2 linked regions of the Homo sapiens genome follow. The protein of the gene in region 1 purifies or fractionates together with the protein of each later gene. This does not show direct contact. Each region holds a gene or a part of one and is shown on either strand. Other genes may lie near its edges.

Region 1 (12,280 bases):
CTAGTGCATTATCTTTGCTTTAGAGAAGGCAAAGCTGAGACTCAGAGACATTAAGTGATTTCCCTGAGGTCACACAGCTTTTAAGTGCCTAGTTGAGATTTGAATCCAGGTCTGTGTGACTCCTAAGTCATCACTCTTGACGACGATAAATATCCTGCTCTCAGCGGGCCTCTGCAGAGGCAGCAGCAGCTTTACTGGGTGTTAGCATAAATCTCCTACATTTGGCATTTGCCACAACTGGAAGCCTCCTTCCAACCAGCAGGAAATCTTATCCTTGAATCACAGGCCCCCAGCAGTGCTCATGTCATATCATAATCACAGCTCAGTTCCTAGATGGTTGCCCTTGATACTTTCTCTTTTTTTTCCTCTTCAGCTTCTATTCCTCTTTTTAGTCTCTTTCTCTCAGCAATTTTTTCCTCTTTTCCTCTTTGCTCTTTCCTTCTTGTTCTCGCTTCTATTCCGTAAGATTAGGGGCTTAATAATAACAGAAATTTATCAAGTGCTTACTATGTTCCAGGCTCTGGGATCAGCATTTTATTTTATTTTATTTTATTTTATTTTATTTTATTTTATTTTAAGACGGAATCTCACTCTCTCCGTCACCCAGGGTAGAGTGCAGTGGTGCGATCTCAGCTCACTGCACCCTCTGCCTCCCAGGTTCAAGCGATTCTCCTTCCTCAGCCTCCCTAGTAGCTGGGATTATAGGCATGTGCCACCACGCCCAGCTAATTTTTGTATTTTTAGTAGAGATGGGGTTTCACCATGTTGTCCAGGCTGCTCTTGAACTTCTGATCTCAAGCGATCCACCTGCCTCAGCCTCCCAAAGTGTCAGGATGACAGGCATGAGCCGTCGCACCTGGCCATGGGTTGAACACTTTTTATCCATCATCTGATTTGTGCCCCACAACAACCCCACAAGATAGGTATTCTTATTATCACCCTTGCTTTGCAAAGAAGAAACTGAAGCCAAGGGAGGTTAGAGTGCACAACTAGGAAGTGTTGGGGACCCCATCCTGACTGACATCACATCAGCTGCGCTTTTTCCATTACTCCATATTCAGCCCAACGAGAGAGTGGAGTGACTAAAATGTACCACTGGAAGGTGCTCAACATAGATTTGGCTGAGGCTGGGCCCTCTGGAAAGTTCTTGGGTGCTATATGATACTATAGCTGTCAGTCATCATGTTCATTTTCATCTGGAGACGGTTAATCATACTCATACTCCAGAGGCTTAAGAGGTTTAAGAGATGGGAGCAAAAAAGTCCAAAGTCCTAATAGGGCTACACAGCTGACTCTCCAGAGGAGACTGGATGAGTGAAATCATAAATATATAGCTTCACACATTTCCACACCACCATTTGTCTGACAGTTTTAAAGTACATGACAAGTTATGGAAAACATCTGACTCAAAGGCAGTGACCTCCTGCAAGGTGCCAGTGAATCTGGTGAACTGCTAAGTCAAGAGACCATTTCTAGGGTTATGGGGGTTATTGGCTGTGAATATATGGAGACACTAAAAGGGCCCCTTCCTTCATCCTTTTAAGTCAAAAATTAAAGACCCCAGCCTATAATTACTTGGGTTGGGTTGAATTAACCAGCAAGGGAGTCAAAGAAATCAGAGCTTCTCTTGGCTGAGGTATTGACCATCTCATCCTGGGTGTCCATGTATGCACCAAGTGGGTAAGGGTGCCTATCCTCACTTAAAACCATCCCTTTGTCCCCCTGTCAAGATAGAACTCTGGGACTGAGGGCAGCTTTGGAAGTCACTTTGCTTATGTTGGATGCCACTTACCCTCCCCCTCCGCACACACACACACACACACACACACACACACACACACACCACGCACACACACACACACATACACACACACATAAATGTCCTCAAAGGTACACTAGAGATTTTGACTGAAACTTCTCTTAGCATTACTGAGAAATTTATTCATTAACATGTCTTAAAGGATTTGGTGCTATGGCAAAGCAATAAATATTTGCAAAGGGAGTGAATTATCAACCTGGTGTTTCTGAATGCAGTTCTCCTGCTGAGACCAAAGGAGAGCCATCAGACTATAATTGTGTTTAATGCTTTCTGTGCACTGGCTAGGGTTTATTTATTTATTTAGGGTTATTACCGATGACTTAAGCCTGATTAAATCACACTGTTTCTGCAGCTCAACCTCTCAATGAACTTCTAGATACCTTGAGGCTAATGTGTTTTACTCAACGAATTCAACCTTTTCCAGTATTCTCTTCCCCAGGCTGAGCCTATCTCTCTTCCTATTTTCTTCAGCTCATAGTCCCAGGTGTCCAGTCCCCTCCTCTTGCCTCTGATCCCTGCATTTCTTTTGCGATATTAGTCATTTCCTCTAGCCCAAGGTAAATGTGAAAATTACACTAGATCCTTCCAATCCATAAATCAGGCTGTATAATGTATTCTCACTTCTTTACCTCATTACTTGTGGCAGCCAAGGGTGAGCACTGGTGAAGATGACCCTGAATACACAGATCTTATGTGCATCCTTTGAGAGGATGGAAAGATGAAGGGTGAGTGGTAGAAACATGAGAGTATTTTTCAAGCAAAAGCTAAGGTGTTTATATGTACTGGTTGTTATTTAGACAGTTTCTCTACCTAGTGTAGCATAAGGAGTAGAGGACACACTTATACACACATATAAACATTCAACATATGCACACACATTTCACATTTCAATATTCCATACTTGGCCATATACTCTGTGCAAAGGATGACCTGGTTTCTTATCAAGTATGTATGTATGCCTGATATACAAGGTTACTTGGTTCATTTTAACTTGGCATAAAAATGTTTTAACTTTGAAAGTTTTCCTTGGTTCATAATATCACAAAGGGATGGGACTTTGAGTCCAAAAATAGGACAGGGATTTTAAGAAATAGAAATGTTAAAAATTCTCCAGTAATGCCCCTGAAAGCTAAACATCCTAGAAACTAACATAAATGTTTAAATTCCAGAAAAAACCATATCAAGCTTGGAACTCCACTTGTTATATTAAATTTAGATATGCTCTTTGTCCTTAGAACCCTTAGCTTTACAGAGTTCTTCAACTAGGTGTGTCATTATATTGAAGGATGTTTTGAGAATTACTCTTGAATTTGGATGAGCCAAGTTTTTAGCCCAATTAGGAATTGCACCTAAGGTTGGTTAGTATCACCATTTATTGAAAAGTTCTACTCCAGTGTCAGTGTGTATTAGTTTGGTTAGAATAATCCATATATCTGCTATTAAACTAATCACCTAATCACTTATTTCTTGCCTTAGGGGAAAGCTATGTCTGTTCCTCAGACAACTTCTTTAAAAAGGTGGAGTACACCAAGAATGTCAATCCCAACTGGTCTGTCAACGTAAAAACATCTGCCAATATGAAAGCCCCCCAGTCCTTGGCTAGCAGCAACAGTGCACAGGCCAGGGAGAACAAGGACTTTGTGCGCCCCAAGCTGGTTACCATCATCCGCAGTGGGGTGAAGCCTCGGAAGGCTGTGCGTGTGCTTCTGAACAAGAAGACAGCCCACTCTTTTGAGCAAGTCCTCACTGATATCACAGAAGCCATCAAACTGGAGACCGGGGTTGTCAAAAAACTCTACACTCTGGATGGAAAACAGGTAGGTACTTTTTCAAAGTACTTTTCCCGTTTTTTCTAAATTCTTAGATGATCATGTTATACCTAAAATATCATTTCTTGTTGACGGACTCTTCCTCCACATCTCATCATCACAACCTGATATTATAGGTTTCATTTGGAGAAAAGGTATTTTTAGCAGGCAAAGCAATGAATCAGGAATCTGAGGCTTTGAAATTCAATCTGCTTCTGATTTACCATGCAGAAAGGTCACTTAGCCTCAGCTTCCTTATCTGCTATGAAAGATGTGTTAGAACCTAGGTTCTATGAATTCTTATGAATATGAATTTAGCTATTATATGATGCAACCTTCATTGTTCAATACATGTGACTGAAAATGATATTTGCCCATTCATTACTTTTTAGATACCCTCACATTGATGCTCAGCATCTATTTTGATAAAAGGAAGTTGAAGTGACCTTCATATGCTCTGAAAGAAGTCAGATACGGGGAAAGCACTGAAGCCTCTGGCTCGTTGTCTTTGCCTCACACTAAACCATATTTATTCTCTTTCTCTTTTCCATATGACATAGCTGTCTTAATTTGGTTCCACTGATGGTTTGTGTGAGAAAGGGACTATTTCAGGATCCTAAAATTAGCCCAAGAAAGATGCTGCCATCTGTTCCCCCTCCAAATCAGGTTCTTCATGTCATTGGTTATACTACTAAAGTGCCACCTATATTAATATCTGGGAAAGAATGCAGCCAGGCGTCTCCATCAGACAGATGCACCATTCTCTTAAGCATAGGGAGCTGTAAATATACAACAAAAATGTTCCAAGGGAATTGGAACAGTGGCTGGTTCTGTTGGCTCTAAAGAGAATTCTGGTCTCCCATCAGAAAAGACAAGTGTGGATTAGTATCAGTCCATATATTCTACCTCTTAAAATGCCTTTGGTGTTTAAACAACTATATAGAAAAGGTATTCCTAAAAGGCGGATTCACTATATATCAAAGTTACTGATGAGTGTTCAAATGCAGACCTGTGCCTCCTCCTATAATTTCTGATAGTAATGTGTGCTCCAAGATTTTAAGTTTCAGGGAAAACTCACCCAGGTACTGTGTACTTTGCAATTTTGAGAAATATTTGGCTTTGTTTCCCATCATTTTGCGATCTGAGAGCTACCTGGACACATTGGTTATACCTGACTTCTGTTTGTTGTACTGAAGCAATGGGTTTGTCTGTGATGTTGGGAAAATCTCCAATTCCCAAGCATTTCTCTAAGAGTGTCTATCTTCTAAGCACCATGTATGTAATAAACAGGAGCTGTCTAAGTATAGGCCTGATTGCCAAAGCCTCATCTCAGAGAAATAGGACATAGAAAGTTTAGAATCATTGGATCACAGAGTTGAGAATGACTTTAGAAGCCATGACATTTAATCTTCCACCTAAGGCATGGATATCCTCTACAATCACTCTATAAGACTATAAGACAGCCTATTTCACTGTTCAACAGCTGTGATTTTTAGAGTTTCTTTATATTAGGCATAAATCTGATTCCCTGTGCCTTCAGCCTTCTGAAGTAATATAGGAATATGCAAATCAAAAACATAAGACTGGGATTAAGAAGATTTGGACTTTAGTCTTGATATTGTCACTTAACCACTTAACTGTCCTGAACCTCACACTCCTTCTCTGTACAAAAGGACTGATCACACCTGCCCTGAGCATGCTCACAGGACTCTTATGAGGATTAAATCAAATAATGGATATGAAAGCACTCTGTAAATTGACACATGGATGTATATATATATATATGCATATAATTCATCATTAAATGAGATTTATGGCAATTTTCATATATTAATAAATGTTAGCTCTCTTTCTCCTACTTTATTTATTTATTTATTTACTTTTGGAGTCAGAGTCTCACTCTGTCACCCAGGCTGGAGTGCAGTGGTGTGAATTTGGCTCACTGCAACCTCTGCCTCCTGAGTTCAAGCAATTCTCCTGCCTCAGCCTCCCAAGTAGCTGGGACTACAGACGCACGCTGCAATACCCGGCTAATTTTTTTGTATTTTAGTAGAAACGGGTTTTCACTGTGTTGCCCGGGATGGTCTTGAACTCCTGAGCTAGGGCAATCCGCCCACCTTGGCCTTCCAAAGTGCTAGGATTATAGGCATGAGCCACCATGCCTAGCCTCTTCCCCCTACTTTATCTCTATCATTCTTATTATAAATTTCCAACATTTGTGAATATATACCATGCCTTGGCATTCTGCTTTTGTTCCAAATAATATATAAAGGGACACCTCCATCTCCTAGGGAAGCAAGCTCCAGTCCAGTGATGCATAGGGTTTTGTCCTACAGCAGGCCATGCAGAGTGGCAAGCTCTCTCAAACTCCTTTAAACATCAGTTCCCTTTCTTTGGGGGACATATTACAAAATACCAGCATATGATATGACATTCATATAGAGAAATAGAGTGGTGCCCAGTGGATCTGAACCATGCCCTTTCAGGCATCTGTACCTCTGTATATACATTCCCTTTCTTTAAAATGTCTTCCTCTGCCCACCCTGACCCCTGGAGGTCATCTTATAAGACCTGGTTCAAATATCACTTTATCTTTGAAAATTTCTGTCTCTGCTAAGGAGGGTAAAAGCAATCCAAACCTTTTTTTTTTTTTAATTAATGCTAAGCTCCTGGTATATTATGGATGCTCTATAAATGTTTTTTGATTGAATGAACTGACATAAACAGATTCTCAGATGGCCCAGGTAGATGTTTTGAGGACCCATCTTTCAATTCCCCAGACATTATCCTTAGGTCTTTCAGAAGAGATAGGGGGCCTCCAAAGGAGTGCATATTCCACCAGGTGGCTTCTATCTGGTGGTTTACTTGGAAGTCACTGAGGGCAGACATTTAAAGCAACATTTCCCTAAATACATTCTAAGGAGAAATGTCTCCATGTCCCCACCCCAAAAAGCTCTCCAAAGAGAATTCTGTGGGCAAATAAGGTTTGCCTTATTTGCAGTAAAATGCTGCAAATTGTGTGCCATTCTTAGAGATTCCAGTGCTCACTGGCACATTGAATGCTCTGAGAAGTTCTACAGCAAGGAAATCCATCCCAATCCTACTTAACCACAAACATTTTTAATGAAATATACACACACACATACTCACACATACATATATGTATATGTATGTATATATACACACACACATATATGTAGATATACACACACACATATATGTAGATATACACACACACACATGCACAGAGTGCACTAGAAAATGTTGTTTACATAAAACACTGATAATTAAGAACTAACTACCGTAACTTTAATGGTAATATTGGTATGCACAGGGTGACCACAAATTAAACGTTGTTTTGTTACAGCAAAGACATTAAATAAAATTTGGGGGTACATGGACAAACCTACTAATTACAAAATAGATGCTGGGTATAGTGAAAGTTGGTGCCAAATTCAAAATTTTGGAGCTCAGCTCATTTCCCAGGTCTGGTGATGACAGCACTAAAGTTAACACCTGTCAATCACTTTGATTATTAGTGGGTATTCGTACTGCTTGCGAATATAATCTTTTTTGTGGAGGCTGAAGTCACATGTATGGCAATAGCTTGACTTGCTTGGATGAGATTCCAATGCATGTTTTTGGCTATACGTGACACAAGGCACTTATTTGTAAAGAACAAAGTATGGTCAAGACTATTTGTTATGGAATGATTTATTCATGAAATCAAGGCCATCGCTTGATTTCAGTGTTCACTATAACTGGATTCCAAATCGACCAAACCAGGTGGTTTTCCCTCTTCATATAAATAATGATCAGCTAAAAGAGCCCAGTTGGTTATTGCAAATTTATTGTTGCTTCTGTAATTGTGTGTATCATTTGACTGATTGGCTCACACTGATTGACAAGCAATCTGCAGACATGGCTCATTTCTTTCTCTCTGTTTTTATTTTGTTTGAATGTGTCTTTTAGAGCCCTTGATCTTTCTAGGGCTTATGTTTGATGTTATAGAAGTTTGGTTTCCTGACCTCTTGCCTCTGAGATATTTGGGGTCTGTGTAGACAGGAAAGCCAACCACCACTAGTAGGAAGACACCCCAATTGATTCCTCACCTCAATAAGAAGTTATTAATGATATAAGAAGTAGTTGGTAGGGCTCTGGCTACTCCCAGGGATTAAAATGGACTTCTAGGAGGTCAAAGAGGACATGATAGAGGATTGGATGGTGATGCATATTAGTTCACTTGCAGGTGAAAATTGTTCTTTTGATTCCTTGGCAGCTGGAGTGGTTGTGGAGTGTTGACAAAATTATCCAATTATTAATTTCCATAACTAAAGTACACATTGACTTTCATGCATAAAAGTGATGGATACATAAAAACTGGGACCCAAATTTCTGGTTCACATGATAGTAGTAGTTTAATAGATACATGTTCTGGCCTTAAAATTAATTGCAGAGCTTTAATAATAGACTTCCAGCTTTTTGGCATCATACACAGTGGTGCAGCTGGTCTTCACAACATCCATTTTCATGCTACACTGATTGACATCTCTAGATTCAGTTTTGTCCACACCCAGAATCTGTGCAAGTGAAGATTCATTATTGCCTCAATATACATGCCTAAGACATAAGTATGGCCTTTAGTGCTTGTTCTAGCTTTGTTAGGCCAATTTTCAATTGGAAGGATTTATTTTATGTTTTTGTCTGTACCTTTATAGCACCGACTACTTGGATCTGGGATTACAGGTCTCAGAATAACAGAGGAGAGGTTTAAGCCGATTCCAAGATTATCCATAGCCTTGGAAACTAGTACAGGGGTTTTAAGGAAATGGTTGATGCATAATACACAGATGAGAGCATGAGGGATGTTTCAATTGCTGCTTAGTATTCTAGGAAAGACTTGCCCTTTCCACGTTGCCATACAAAAGAACTGGGTGCTGTAAGCACAAAGGCAATTGCAGGAAACACAGCAAGACAGATTGGATTTAACCTTGGAAATGTTGAATGCACTTACCAAGGTAGGTGTGTTTTTCCTTTGCCTACATAGCCAGTTTTTCTCTCCCCTGTTATCTCTGCTTTCCCAAGTAATATCTGATCTTATTTATACTCCCTGGCCTCCGGCTCTCTCAGAGCCAACCTCTCTCTTCTCCTAGTGTTATGACCCTGTCAGTCAACATTGGGCTCATTAGAAAAGGCCACATGGGCATAAATTATGCCTCAAGAGGGAGGTCATTTATCATTGGCCTTCACTTGAGAAGATCAAGGCTGGAAAGTTCATGTTTTTATTACCAAAATTCTCCTTCTCCAACCTTTCAGAGGTTCCTAGAGAAAGGCTTTGGGAGGATTGGCTTGAGCATGAAGTGAAATAGAACAAAGGTGAAAAGCCAGGCTGGGCTCTGTGAAAGGAGACAGTTTGCAAACTACCATGTCATATGTGGTGGTAGATTTCACACTTTAAAAGAGTGGCCAAACATCAAATATACTGCCCTTCTGGAAAGAAAAGACTAAGTGTAGCCTGGTGATCAGTTATTTCTTCAGTAATTTATCCTCTTAGAGTTTTATTGTTGTTGAGATGCTCCTGGCTCTGAGCAGTGACAGAGGTGTGACTTGGCCAATTCAATCAAAAGCTTTGGCATAGAATTCCAGTCTCTTGTGCTGACTAGTCTGTCACTGTCTAGCATTCAGCAAGTGGAAAGAGCCCTAGGCTGGGATTCAGAGGCCTGAGTTTTAGTCTTCACTCTGTTCTTCCCTAGCTATGTAACGTGGAGCCAATCACGTCTCTTTTTGGGCCTTAATTTTTTAAGGAGCCTTAGTATATGACCTGTAAGAGTCCTTCTAGTTCCACAATAACAGAGTATCCACCTCATAGTGTTGGTTCTGTCGAGACATGTTTTCACTCTTCTGAATGTACTCTACCTCTCTATGCTCCTAAGGATTGCCAATGTGATGTCGTACTTACTTTGGTGGATACATTGCTTTCCAGGATGGCCTCTAAAAGGTATTTGCATAATTCTTATATTCAGATCTTTCTTGCTGCCTGCAATGACATCACCAAAGAATATTTTCAAACTTGTAATTTTCGTTTGACCCCCTTTTCTTTACACTGTGGATGGTATAAGGAGCAGAAGGCAGAGGACTCACAAAACAAAGCAAGGCAAAAGCCAGCCTGCTAAAATTGTGGCAAGTGTTTGACAGTGCCATTATTAAGCTATTTATATCACAGTGGTGCTATTTTCAGTGCTAGGGAAGGATTATTACTAATGGGGGTGGTTAGCACTGGTGCTAAATGCCTTGCTATTTCTTGAGTAGACTGAAGAGATTCATCAAGTGGGGATTGATCTATCCAGGGATGCAGGCTGTTCCATTTAAAACTGTTGAAGCAATGGTCTTTTTGTTCTTAGTTCTTTATTTTCATCTGTTTCATTATTGTCATTCCCTCAAAGTGGGAGAAAAAGCATTGTCTCCAAAAACAGTTTTTAAAAACAGCTTTATTGAAATATAATCCCCACATTATATATTTCACTCATCTTATGTATAAAATTCAACAGCTTTTAGTATATTCACAGAGGTCTGCATCCATCACCACAATCAATTTTAAAATACTTTGATTATCCCAAAAAGAAACGCTGTACCCTTTAGACATTGCCCTCTAGTTCTCCGATTCCACTTCCCCATCCCTAAACAATCACTTATCTGCTTTTTGCTCTATGGATTGTCTTATTCATGACATTTAATAATAATGGAATCATGTGGCTTTTTGCACCTGGCCTGCCTGACCTAGCATAATGTTTTCAAGGTTCATCCATGTTGTAGCATATATTGGTACTTCATTTCTTTTATGTGTGAATAACATTCTATTGTATGGATTTACCACACTGTATTTAGTCATTTATCTATTAATGGACATTTGGGTTGTTTCTATCTTTTGGCTATTGTGATAATGCTACTATGAACCTTCATGTACAGATTTTTATGTAGATACATGTCTTCATTTATCTCGGGTAAATATCTCAAAATGGCATTGCTGGGCTGTATAGTGTGTTTAAAATTTTATGAAACTGTCAAATGGTTTTCCAAAGTGGCTGCACCATTTTCCATCCTTATTCGTATTGTATGAGAGTTCCAGTTTCTTCACATCCTCACCAACACTTGTTATCTTTTTTTTTTTATTAGCTCCATCCTAGTGGGTGTGAAGTGGTATCTGATTGTGGTTTTTCTTGATTTGTTTGCATTTCCCTAGTGATTAATGATTAATGATATCACACATATTTTCACATGCTTATTGGACAATTGTATATCTTCTTTGGAAAAATGTCTGTTCAGATCATTTTCCCATTCTTTAATTGAGTTATTGGGCTTCTTATTAATGAGTTGTAAGAGTTCTCTATATATTCTAGATACAAGTCCTTTGTCACATATGTGATTTGCAAGAATTTTCTGCTAGTCTGTAGCATGTCTTCATTTTCTTAATGGTTTTCTTAATTTTTCAAGAGAAAAAAAGCTTTTATTTTGATGAAGTCTGATTTATTAATTTTTCTTCTATGCATTATACCTTGGGGTCATATCTAAGAAATCTTTACCTAACCCAACATCTCAAAAATTTTCTCCCATGTGTTCTTTTAGAAGTTTTATATTTTTAGCTCTTAGATTTAAATCTCTGATCCATTTTGTGTTAATTTTTGTGTACAGGATAAGAGTCAAGGTTCTTTTGGGGGAGGGGCACATAGATATCTGATTTTTCTAGCACTATTTGTTGAAAAGAAAAGATAAGACAGTTTTCTTAATTTAAATTAAATATGAACAGTGGTTCATATAGCCGAGTCCTCTGAAGGTTTTTAGAATTTCTAAGAACTGTGGGTGTGAACTAATGTAACACAGGAGCTTCTCCTATGCAGATGTTGTGGAACAGTACTCTACTCTACAATACTCTACAATACAAGTACTCTACAATACTCTAAGGCTGTATCAGTAAGGCTGGCTTAGTCTTATTTTGTAGGGAAAAAAGAGGTCTTGATAGGAGAAGCTAAAATGGGCTATTGTTCCTTGACAGTGCCCTGCCATGTTCTAGACTCCTAGAGTTCCCACCCAGACCTATCTGAACTTCCCTGTCAAATATCCTATACACTTCTGGTGATGCTAAACAGGATTGGGGGAGGGGAGTAAGGAGATGTCCAAAATTGTTGGGGTTATTTTCTTTTGTAACATCTTGAGATATAATTCACATATCACATATTTTGCTTATTCAAAGTGTACAGTTCAATGATTTTAATATGCTCACAGATATGTGTGACCATCACCAAAGTCAATTTTAGAATATTTTTATTACCTCTCCTACCCTCTATCCCCCACAGCCCTAAGCAACCACTAATCTACTTCATAGTTCTATAGATTTGCCTTTTCTGAACATTTTGTATAAATGAATCATATTTTATGATTCATGTATATATGCTAAGTGACTAGCTTCTTTCACTTAGCATAATATTTTCAAGGGTCATCTATGTTCTGTCATGTATCTATCTGTACTTTGTTCTTTTTTATGGCTGAATAGTACTCCATTGTATGGATATACTACATTTTGTTTATCCATTCATTTGTTGATGAACATTTGGGTTGCTCCATCTTTTGCCTATTAATAATGCTATTATAAACATTT
Region 2 (12,280 bases), on another chromosome or scaffold:
GCCTTGTGCTCCTTCAAATCTTTTGAAATTTCTCGAAACTAAAGAGTGGGCTGCCTGCTTTCCTGGGAGTCTCATAATTAGGATGAATGCTTAATTGACATGTTTGTTTCCTCCAAGGGGTGGCTGGCAGAGGATCCTTACACCGACAAGGAAGGTATGCTTTGCTTTTGTTTTTAGCAGCATTGTGTGCCCGTAGCAACAGCGGGTTAAAAAGAAAAAGTACTGGAGATCGCATGAAGGTTGATTGCCCTAGAGAAGTCGACACGCTCACACAGATGGAAATGATTTCACCGAGTCCTGAAAAATGTGGTCGTCAGCCCCACATACAAACCACGACTTGTGTTTTCTTTAAGATGAGGAGTCTGGTCAAGAGGTCTGTGTAATAAAAGATGTTTGTAGAATCCATTTCCATTCTGCCTGAAGCCATCTGCTTTATGTCTATAATAAACAGGGATGTTTTCAGCCACTTTCCCGGGCCTGGGCCCGTTACAAATGCTCACCGCAGGGAAAGGTAAATTGACTGCCTCCCAAGCGATGAGCATTTGCACGTTACATCTGCAGTGACGGCACTTAACCTTCCCGGGTCGCCTTCCTTACTGTGCCTCCGCGACGGCCTGTGACAAATGGGCTGAGGGGTGCACACTAGGTTAGAACTTAATACACATGGAGTATTGGCCAGCATCACATTACGTGGTGAGCCAAGTGAGATGTGAGCAGGCGGAAGAGGCCATATTCCAGGAAGATGGAGGCCGTCTGACCTTCTCCAGCCAGAAAGACCTGAGGGCAGCTGGGGCCGTCCTGAGACTTTCTGATGTACCCACTGTCCCTGAAACTTGCGGATGCACTTGAGTGCTCTTTCTGAAACACAGACTGAGCAAGTCACATCCCTGTTTAAAATCGTTCAGAGGCTTCCTCCTTGCCCATAGGATAAAATCTAAACTCCATAGGCACCCAGGGTCCCTCGTGATCCTTCCACTCTCTGCAGCTTCATCTTGAGCCACTCACACATCAGCTCCTGCCTACACGTGAGCCATACTGACATCTTTCAGCTCACCTCCCACCTTCAGCTGCTGTGTCTAGGCCTTCGCAGCGCTGTGCCTTGTGCCTGACACAGTATTCACTATCTTCCCCAGCATCTCAATTCCCTCTCCATTCTTGCTTTAGCTGGAAGGTCCCTTCTGACAGCCTGCCGCTAAAAAGATGGGTGTTTTAACTTCCTATGGCTGCTGTAACAAATCACTGCAGCCATAGGAAACTAATGTGTGGCTTAAAACAACACAAATTTGGCTGGGCACAGTGGCTCACGCCTGTAATCCCAGCACTTTGGGAGGCTGAGGCAGGCAGATCACCTGAGGTTGGGAGTTTGAGACCAGCCTGACCAACATGGAGAAACCCCGTCTCTACTAAAAATACAAAATTAGCAGGGCACAGTGGGACGTGCCTGTAATCCCAGTTACTCAGGAGGAAGAGGCAGGAGAATCACTTGAACCTGGGAGGCAGAGGCTGCGGTGAGTTGAGATCGTGCCATTGCACTCCAGCCTGGGCAACAAGAGCAAAACGCTATCTCAAAAAAAAAAAAAAAATCAAACAAAAACACAAATGTATTCCCTTCAAGTTTTGTAGGTCAGAAGTTTAAAATGAAGGGGTCCGCGTTCCTTCTAGAGGTCCTGGGGACAGTCATTTCCTCGCCTTCTCCAGCAGCTAGGGGCCGTTTGCATTGCTTGGTTCATGGCCCCTTCCTAGCACCTCTCTCTTCTCTGACGACTGCTTCTTTCACACATCTTCTTTCTCTGTTTAGCCCCGTTGCTGCCCTCTTTATGGGGGCCTTCATGATAAAACTGAGTAATCCAGGCTACCCTCCTCATTTCAAGATTCTTTATGTAATCACATCTGTAAAGTCCCTTTTGCCATGTAATATAACATATTCACAGGTTCCAAGGATTAGGACACGGTCATTTTCAGGAGCCAATTATTCAGCCTCTTGCAGTGAGGTGTTAAGCCCTGAGCCCTGATCCCTTACCCTGGGGGTTATTGCCTATTGAATTGTCCTTCCCATAGATGACTGGAAGCTCTTTGAGGGTGAGGGCTGCATCTGCATTGCCTCCTATTGCATCCTACTGTCCAGTAGAGGGCCTGGCCACTAGTAGATGCTTAATAAGCAGTTGTCCACTGAGTAGATGGCAGTCAGGGCAGTGCCAGAGACCAGGCTGTTGTAGAGAAACTGGACGGACTCTGAAAACCAGTGCAGTGAGCAATGTCTAGGCAGTAAAATCTGGAAGGAATTGTCTGGACTGTCTTGGCAAATGGACAGCCATCAACCTCCAGTTCTGTAGGGCAGAGGGATGACCTTGGTGTCAATGTGCAGGAGGCCAGCATATCCCTGTTGACAGGATCATGGTGGTAAAGAGGGCCCAATAGGCAAGGATGTCTTTTTTAAGTTTCAGATTGAGTCGGGTGAAGTGGGGCTTTGGGGAGGGATCTTGTGTGCCTTCAGGGAGCCAGAAAGTTCACTTTATATCTCTGGAAGGCTCATTCCATTGACTGGGACAGAACCAAAGAGAGGAGGTAGACATCTGACAAAAATACTTGGTCAGGGATAGACACTGACTCTGTTGTTCTTTCCACACACATTTCCTGAGTACCTATTGGTGCCAGGCACAGTGCTAGGAGTTGAAAGGACCAAGATGAATTTAAAAACCACTCTCTAATCACTTGAGCCCAGGAGTCTGAGGCTGCAGTGAGCTATGATTATGCCACTGCACTCCAAACTGGACAACAAAGTGGGACCCTGTCTCTTAAAAAAACAAATAAAAAATAAAAAACCTCTAAGATATTATCTTCCACTTGGAGAAGAGCAACATGCATTAAAAAAATGACAGTTCTCTGGTGAAGAAACAAAAAGGTGATAAAATATGTAACAAGTACAGAGTTAGCATGGTGGTGAGGGCAGTAGGGGGGAGGTAAATATTCCAGGGAGAAAACCTTGAAGGCAGATCATCAGGATGGCGTTTCAGGTGGTCATGACTGCTTTTGCAGAAGCAGCATGTTGTGCTTGAGGAGTGGGATGAAATGCTGTCTAGATGACTATGGAGTGGGAGGCAGTAAGCTGGGGAGGGGGCGGGAGCCAAAGGTAGAACCTGTTTGCCTTGTCTCCAGTTTAATGATAAATTCCAACAAGCCTGTACACCACATTCTCAACTTGTTAAATCCTTCAGCTGCAATTATCACTCTCTGGCCTCCATTAAATGCTTATTGATGAGAAGCCTTCCCCAATAGCAGAAGTCTCCCTCACTTGCTCCGTCTCACTAGATATTATTAGATGATAAGGGCAGATGGGACACTTTTATAGCATGCATCTTGCCTTGTGTCTGATGAGATTTGCACTCAAATTAGAGCCAGTTTATTGTCCTGGTGGATCCCTGGAGTGATTCCATTTTAGCCCTATCACTGTATTTCGCTGGGTTTGGCTTGGGAGGGTACTTAGTTGAAGCAAATTTGAGTGTACACATGGTACAGGTGCACTGACCCTGTTACTGATCCTGGGAATGTGCACTCCTGTGTCCTTCAGCCTGCGATATGGCCCAGACATAGCACAGTCACCACTAGAACAGTGTGGCTCAGTATGCCCACAGCAAAAAAAGAAAGAGAGGCACTTATTAAAGGTCATTTATTCTCCTTCTCAGCATCACACTTCATTGCTGTTGATGCCACCATTCAAACAAATTGTTCTAATTTATAGTTTCTGGGAACTTTTGGAAAAATGGATGAGAGCCCCAGGTTACCTGAGATGCTGTTACATATTTTAATGGTGCTAACAATGTATATTTTGTCAAAATGAAACAGGATTTTGAAAGACTTCATAACAGTTGTAAAAAAAAAACAGCCACCTTTTCAGATACAGTCATCACGAGGCTGCTCTTGTGAATAGCTTGGCACACTTTGCAAATATCTCATTAAACCATCCAACCTCCCTGGGAAAAAGCTAGCAGCAGCTTGTTGACTGCTTTCTTCCCACACAGTTGGGGGTATTCCTGCTGCCTCAAAGGAAGTATGGAGAGACCACGGCCCGCCTAGGCTGAGAGCTTTTCATCTTCACACTGTAGCTCAGAGTACATGCCCTCCAGCCTGCCAGTGCCCTGTTTCAGTCTTCACTGATCCCTACTCTGGGCCAGGCTCTGTGCTTCGAGCTGAAATCCCAAGAAGGAGAAAACACCACTTCCCTTCCTAAAGGGTTTACTGTCCAGTGGATAGGAAAGACACATAAGCAGGCTTTTTCAATAAAATGTCGCTTGTGGTTTATTAAAGGTAAGTCAGAGATGAGTTAACCTAAGCTAGATGTCAAAGAAGCCATCTCAGCAGCCTTCCACCCTCCCAAGTCCCAGACACTTGTATCCCCAACTCTGTGGCAGCCACAGTGAATTAGTTAATCCAGTTTCCAATCCCCTTTCCCTTACTGTTCTCACTGGAGAGGCTGTCAAGCTAAATAGATGCCTTTTCTGGCCTCTGTTGTAGCTACAGTGGCCATGTAACCTAGTTCTGGCCAATGAGACAGAAGCAAAATCTACAGGAGGTTCTAAAAAAGCTCTTGTGTTCTTGATTAAGAGGAATAGCCAATCTAGTACAGCTTCTTGCTCCTCCTTCTTGCCTTTATTGAGGTTATGATGTGACCATGAGACAGAAACTGAAAGAATTGTAGGTCATTGTTGAGCCCATGATTTCATGTCATTAGGTGCCTACTTCCAGACTTTTTGTCATGTTAGAAACAAATGAACCTCTCTTTGTTTAGACCACTGAGGTTAGGCTTCTGGTATTTGCAGCTAATATATCCCTAACTGATATAGGTACCTAGCAGGTAATTGATAAATAGTGATGAAGTAATAAATAATGTGATCATATGAATTGGATCTTAACATATTGGGATGTGCCGGGGGGTTTTCTGGTTGGAGGAAACCAAAATAGCCTGTACAGAAGGTTGAAGCAGGAAGCCATGAAGATCTCACAAAGAAGTCCTAATAGGTAGTTCATTGTTGCTAGAATATAAAGTAGGAAACTGGATGAAAGCCTGGAGAAGGAGATAACATGGGCCAAATTGAAACAGTTTCCTTTGATATAAGCAGGGTCCCAGGTTCCTGTGACTGAGCACTCTACATGTTGCCCCCAGAACTGCAGGATTACAGCTAAGACCATCACAGCAAGATGAATAATAAAGGCAATAAATGCATTCCTCCCATTGGTTTCTGTATTATCTATTACTGCATAACCAATTACATCAAAATGTAGCAGCTTAAGATAACACATTTATTTATTATTTTTATTTATTATCTCACAGTTTCTGTGGGTCGTGAATTCAGATATAATTTAACTTATAAAGCCTATCTTATAAAGCTTCAGTCAGTGTTCGCAGGGCTGCAATCACATCTGAAAACTTGACTGGGGAAAGATCACACCCACACTCATGCACATAGTTTTTGGCAGATCCAGTTCCTCACTGGCTGTTGGCCACCAGAGGTCTCTCTCACTTCCTGGGCCCATGGGCATCTCCACGGGGCAGCTCACAACCTGCCTGCTGGCTGCATCAGGGTGAGCAAGTAAGAAAGCAAAAGAGGTGAGCAAGAGGGAAGCCAGGGGCCTTTGGTAACCTTATCTCAGAAGTGGTAACCACTACTGCTGTATTCTGTTTGTTGTAAGCAAGTTTCAGCCTATACTTAAGGGATGAGATTACCAGTGAATACTAAAAGGATCATTGGGAGCCATCTTAAACACTGCCTACCACAGACACACCACCATCTCCTTTCTCCTCCTGCTCCATTAGGGTCAGCAGTAGCAGCACCTTTCTCACCATTGTCATCATCATCACCACAGCCACAGTGATTATTTATTAAATGCTTCTTACGTATCAGGCACTTTCCATATGTAACTATCCTCACTATAACCTTGTAAGAGTAAGTAACATTATCCCCATCTTGCAGGTTAGAAACCTGAGGCTCAGAGAGGGTCTGTGATTTGCCCTAGGCCTCACAGCCAGTGAGAGGTAGAACTAGGGGTCAACCAAGTCCCACCTCGAGGAGGCAGCATCTCAGAGGCAAGAGAGCCGTGTCTGCCAGCCTGCCCTGGAGCCTGGGCTGTTTCCTTCTCACCTTTAACCTCAACAGGGTGAGACCAGAGGGTGGGCTGCACCCTCTCAAAATGCTTGGGCCCCAGATAAAGGACAATAGGTGAGATCAGAATACAGTCTGCACATTAGATAATAGTCCAGTAACAATGTTGGTTTCCTGATTTTAATCATTGTTCTGCAGTTATGTAACAAAGTGTATTCATTCTGAGAAAACACATACTGAAGTATTTAGAAGTAAAGAGATTTTATGTCTATGACTTACTCTCAAACATTTCAGAAAAAATATTTATAAACAGGTATGTATGTGTGTGGAAAGAGAGTGATAAAGCAAGTGTGGTAAAATGTTAACATTGGGGAATCTGGATAAAGAGTATAAAACATTTTGTATAAATTTTGTAACTTTTTTCCAATAAGTCTGAAATTGTTTCAAAATAAAAAGTGTTTTAAAAGTGCTAATCTACTCTAGGACCTTGTGAGATCTATTAGGACTACCAGAGATGGCACTACGGGAGTCTTCTAGCCCTCCTTCTGACCCCGTGGTGATCTGTCAGAGCTCAAGGAGGATATAGAGGTTCAGAATAGAACATGGGTTCTGGGATCAGGCTGCCTTGGTTCCAGTCCTGGCCCAGTAGCTTCTAAGGTCCCTGAGCTGTATGAGTAACCACTCAGGGTCGTTAAAAAGGACTTGGCAAGAGAAGGATACGCCTTGGCATAGCACTTGGCATACTTCATGGCCCATGGCCAACCCTCCTTAAACGTTGTTTTAATGGCCTCCTCAGTCATCTTACAAGTGAGAAGTAATGGTCTGTGTGTGGTTTAGAGAGACTGATCTGGATAATTGTCTCAGTGCTAACTCCCTGACATGAGCTTTTGTCCCCATAAAAGCAGGGTGGCCACTGCAACAGGTGTGGATGTGCCTGACAAGATGAAGAGCCGAATACCTGTGGTGCTCCTGGCCTGTGGCTCCTTTAACCCCATCACCAACATGCACCTGCGCATGTTTGAGGTGGCCAGAGATCACCTACACCAAACAGGTCAGTCAGGGGGCCCTGAGTCCAACAGAAGAACTGGTGGGTTAGGCTTCATGGGGCTTTTCTGGCTGCTGGCATCACTATTATTAAAACAGCTCAATTTATTCACAGCATAACTAGTGGCATATTTTTTTCATCATATTCAAAGGGTTGATGCTTATAGTCTTGTGACATATGTACAAGTCATACCCCTTGCCATAGAGCTGAACACATCTCAAGGTCTCCCCTCCCTGCCCACCTCACATTGGCAATGAACGACAACAGGCCCTCTACAGAACCTGTGCCACAATCAGGGCATCCTTCCTGGTACTCCCAACATCTACCTACACAGCCAGATGAATAGGTAGCATGTGCCTTAGAAAGCTCCTGATACTCTTCAGAGGGTAAGAAAATGCTTGATAATGGGCATTTTGACATTTTCTCATTTTAAAGAATAGATCTTAGATTATTACAAATTAATAATCTTGTATATAGGGCATTTCCAATACAGATGGCATGACTTTGACAGGAATATTTAATCAGCTGGAAATATATAATCTGAGGATATTTCACCTGCTTGACTTTCTATTTCATTATTAAAGGAGTAAAGTGACATTTGTAATCTGCATGATTGTTTCTAAAGAATATAAATAATGTATCTGTTGCTATCGAGTATATATGAAATTATTTACTTGTATATTTATGAATGTATTATGTATTCATATATGTATTTTGTGTTTCTATATTGTTTGTAAAAAGTTTGCCTTTAAGGACATTGTTTTTATACCAGAATCCATCCCTATTTACTTTTAACATAGCAAAAAGTATTTGAGTAACATGGAAATTATTTCTTCAAAGAAATAATGCACAAGTATTAGTTCATTTTAAAGGAAATGTCTTTATTTTAGAAACATATTTTTATTGAAAAAGTAAAAGTGATATCCTATTACTACCAGTAGGACTGTACTGGTAGTAATAGGATAAATTTTGAGGACAATTTGGTGTTCTGTGACAAAAGATTTAAAGTCTCTACCCATACTCAGAACAAAGAGAAAAATGAACCAATGGAAACCAAACCAGATTTGATGCAGATATTAGAATTAGCAGACAAAGACTTGAAAACAATTATTATAATTATGTGCTATATATTCAAGTTAAGTAGAGATATGGACAATATAAAAGGACCCAAGTCAAACATCTAGAATTAAATACTACAACCTGTTAGATGAAAAATACACTATAAAGAATAAAAAACAGATTAGACATTACAGAAGAAAAGATTAGTGAACTTGAAGATGTAATAATAGGAACTATCTAAAAATACAGGAAGAAAAAATTTTAAAAAAGAAAGAATAACAATGAGATACGGGAAAACTTGAAGCAGCTTAATATACTTGGAATTGGAATCCCAGAAGGGGAAAACAAAGGAAGAACTAGAAAAAATATTTGAAGAAATAATAACTGAAATTTCTCCAAATTTGATGAAAACCCACAGATCCAACTATCTGAACAAACTCCAAACACAAGAAACGTTAAGAAAACAACACTGAAAAATATAATAATCAAATCTCTCAAAAGCAGTAATAGTCAAAAGCAACCACAGAACAAAAATAAAGATGACAGCAGACATCTTGTTACTGAATTTACCAAAAGAGAATTTAGTGTAATAGCATTGTTAGAGAACTGAAAGAAAATACTGTCGACCTAGAATTCTATATCCATTCCATATCTGGCAAAAATATCTTTCAAAAACGAAAGCAAAGTAAAGGCATTTTCAGATATTCAAAAGCTGAAAGAACTCACCACCAGCAAACCTGCACTACAAAAAATGCTAAATTCTTCAGGCAGAAGGAAAATAATACCAAACAGAAGCATGGACCAACACAGGAATACAGAGCACTGGAAATGGTAACAACATAGGGCAATTATATAAGATTTCTTATTGATTTTCTTTAAAAGGTAATTAACAGTTTAAATAAAAATAACAATACATTGTGGGATTTATAACCTATGTAGAAGTAAAATATATGATAACACTAGAATAAAGCTGAGGGGGTAAAAGGGAAGTATACATAAAGTGGTATAACATCACTTAAAGATAGACTGTAAGAAGTTAAAGGTATGTTTTAAACTCTAATGCAACTGCTAAAATGAAGCAGTTATAGTTAATAAGCATACAGAGGAAGTAAAATAGAATTGGAATATACTCAGTTAATTCAAAAGAAGAAAAAGAAGAAACAGGGAACAAAAAACAGATGAGACAAATAGAAAACAACATAAGAGATTTAAACCTAACTATATCAATAATCACATTAAATATAAGTAGCCTAACAACTTCTGCAAAGAGGCAGACTGCCAGATTCAATAAAATAAGCAAGACCCAACTATAAATAAGAAGCATACTTTAACCATAGTAACCCAAATAGGTTAAAAGTAAGAGAACAGAAAACTGTCCTATGCTAACACTAATTAAAAGAAAGCTGAAGTGGCTATAGTAATACAGAGAAAGTAGATTTCAGAGGAATGAATATTACGTGGGATAAATAAGGTCATTTCATAATCACAAAGGGGTTAATTCTTTAAGCAGAAGTAATACGCTTTTTGCACTTAGTAATATAACTTCAAAATACATAAGAAGCAAAAACTTATAGAATTGCAAGGAGAAATAGACAAACCCACATTTAGAGTCAGCTATTTTAATGCTCTTCTCAGTAATTAATAGAATAAGCACACAGAAAATTAATAGAAGACTTGAACAACACTATTAAACAATTTGACCTAATTGACATTTATAGACCACTGCATCCTACATCACAGAATACACATCCTTCCCAAGGGCACACAGAACATTTACCAAAATAAGCCATATTCTGAACCATAAAAGAAGTCTCCGCATGGCGCGGTGGCTCATGCCCGTAATCCCAACACTTTGGGAGGCCAAGGTGGGTGGATCACCTGAGGTCAGGAGTTTGAGACCAGCCTGGCCAACATGGTGAAACCCCGTCTCTACTAAGAATACAAAAATCAGCCAGGTGTGGTGGCACACACCTGTAATCCCAGCTACTCAGAAGGCTGAGGCAGGATAATCGGCTTGAATCCGAGAGGCAGAGGTTGCAGTGAGCCGAGATCGTGCCACTGCACTCCAGCCTGGGGAGTGCAGCGAGACTCTGTCTCAAAAAAAAAAAAAAGTCTCAATAAATGTAAAAGAACTGAAGTAATACAAAGTGTATTCTCTGACCACAGTGGAATTACATTAGAAATCAATAACAGAAAGATCTCCGAAAGATCCCCAAATATGGAAATAAAATAACATACTTTGAAAAACTCATGGGTCACAGAAGAAATCAAAATGGAAATTAGAAAACATTTTGAACTCAATGAAAGTGAAAACAATATATAAAAAATTTAGGATGCCACTGAAATAGTACTTAAGAAGAGTTTTATAGCACGAAATATTATATTAGGAAAAAAAGGTCTCAAATCAATGATTTCAACTTCCACTTTAATAAACAAATGAACAGATGAAAAACAAAATAAGCAGAAGAAAACAAATACAATAATTTGCCACACTATGACATTTTAGCAAATAACAGACCATATGTATGACAGTGGTCTGATAAGATTGTAATGGAGTTGAAAAATTCCTATTGACCAGTGACGTTATAGCATCGTGGCTCAAGGCATTACTTGTGTTTGTGGTGACGCTGGTGTAAACAAACCTACTGCATAACTAATCATATAAAAGTCTAAAAAGTCTAGCATAGGCCGGGCATGGTGGTTCACACCTGTCCAGCACTTTGGGAGGCCAATGCAGGCAGATCAGGAGGTCAAGAGTTCAAGACCAGCCTGGCCAAGATGGTGAAATCCCATCTCTACTAAAAATACAAAAATTAGCCAGGCCTGGTGGCACGCACCTGTAATCCCAGCTACTTGGGAGGCTCAGGCAGGGAATTGCTTGAACCTGGGAGGCAGAGGTTGCAGTGAGCTGAGATTGAGCTACTGCACTCCAGCCTGGGCGACAGAGTGAGACTCTGTCTCAATCAATCAATCAATCGACCAATTAAGTCTAGCATATACTATTATATACAGTACATAATAATTGATAATGGTAATAAATGACTAAGTTACTGATTTATGTATTTACTATACTATACTTTTATCCTTATTTTAGAGTCTATTTCTTCTGTTTATTTAAAAAAAAAGTTAACTGTAAAAGAGCCTCAGGCAGCTCCTTCAGAAAGAATTCCAGAAGAAGGCATTGTTATCATAGATGACAGCTCCATGCATGTTTCTGCCCCTGCAGACCTTCTAGTGGGACAAGATGTGGAAGTAGAAGATGGTGATATTGATGATCCTGATCATGTGTAGGCCTTGGCTAATCTGTGTGTTTGTATCTTAATTTCTAACAAAATTTACAAAGTAAACATTTAAAAATAAAACTTACAGGATAAGGATATGAAGAAAAATATTTTTATACATCTGTACAATGTTTGTGTTTTAAGCTAAGTATAATTACAAAAGAATCCAAAAGTTTAAAAAGTTGTCAAGTTTATAAAGTAAAAAAGTTATAGTAAGCTAAAGTTAATTTATTATTGAAGAAAGAAAAATATTTTTAAAAATTTAGCGTAGTTTAAATAAACAGTGTTTATAAAGTCTATAGGAGTCTACAGTAATACTGTAGTCCTTCACATTTACTCACGCCTTGATTCACCCAGAGCAACTTCCAGTCCTGCAGCTCCATTCATGGTAAGTGCCCTATAAAAGTATACTGTTTATATATATATATATATAATATATATAATATATATTATATATCATATATACATTTTATATATATATCATATATATCATATATATATCATATATATGATATATATGATATATATACACACACACTTTTTTTTTGAGACAGAGTCTTGCTCTGTCACCCAGGCTGGAGTGCAGTGCCATGATCTCAGCTCACAGCAACCTCCACCTCCCATGTTCAAGCGATTCTCCTGTCTCAGTCTCCCGAGTAGCTGAGACTACAGGCATGCATCACCATGCCTGGCTGATTTTTTTGTATTTTTAGTAAAGATGGGGTTTCATCATATTGGTCAGGCTGGTCTTGAACTCCTGACCTTGTGGTCAGCCTGCCTCGGCCTCCCAAAGTGCT

The links.
Region 2: the proteins of DCX (region 1) and NMNAT3 purify together in Homo sapiens (affinity purification with mass spectrometry; 3 studies listed by BioGRID and IntAct, with this or other methods). This does not show direct contact.

The regions. Positions count from the first base shown.
Region 1 is NC_000023.11:111,392,346-111,404,625, reverse strand, and holds part of DCX (neuronal migration protein doublecortin), read left to right. Parts: intron 1-3,295; coding exon 3,296-3,636; intron 3,637-12,280. UniProt on the Homo sapiens protein: Microtubule-associated protein required for initial steps of neuronal dispersion and cortex lamination during cerebral cortex development. May act by competing with the putative neuronal protein kinase DCLK1 in binding to a target protein.
Region 2 is NC_000003.12:139,622,485-139,634,764, reverse strand, and holds part of NMNAT3 (nicotinamide/nicotinic acid mononucleotide adenylyltransferase 3), read left to right. Parts: intron 1-117; 5' UTR 118-154; intron 155-7,000; 5' UTR 7,001-7,040; coding exon 7,041-7,149; intron 7,150-12,280. UniProt on the Homo sapiens protein: Catalyzes the formation of NAD(+) from nicotinamide mononucleotide (NMN) and ATP. Can also use the deamidated form; nicotinic acid mononucleotide (NaMN) as substrate with the same efficiency. Can use triazofurin monophosphate (TrMP) as substrate.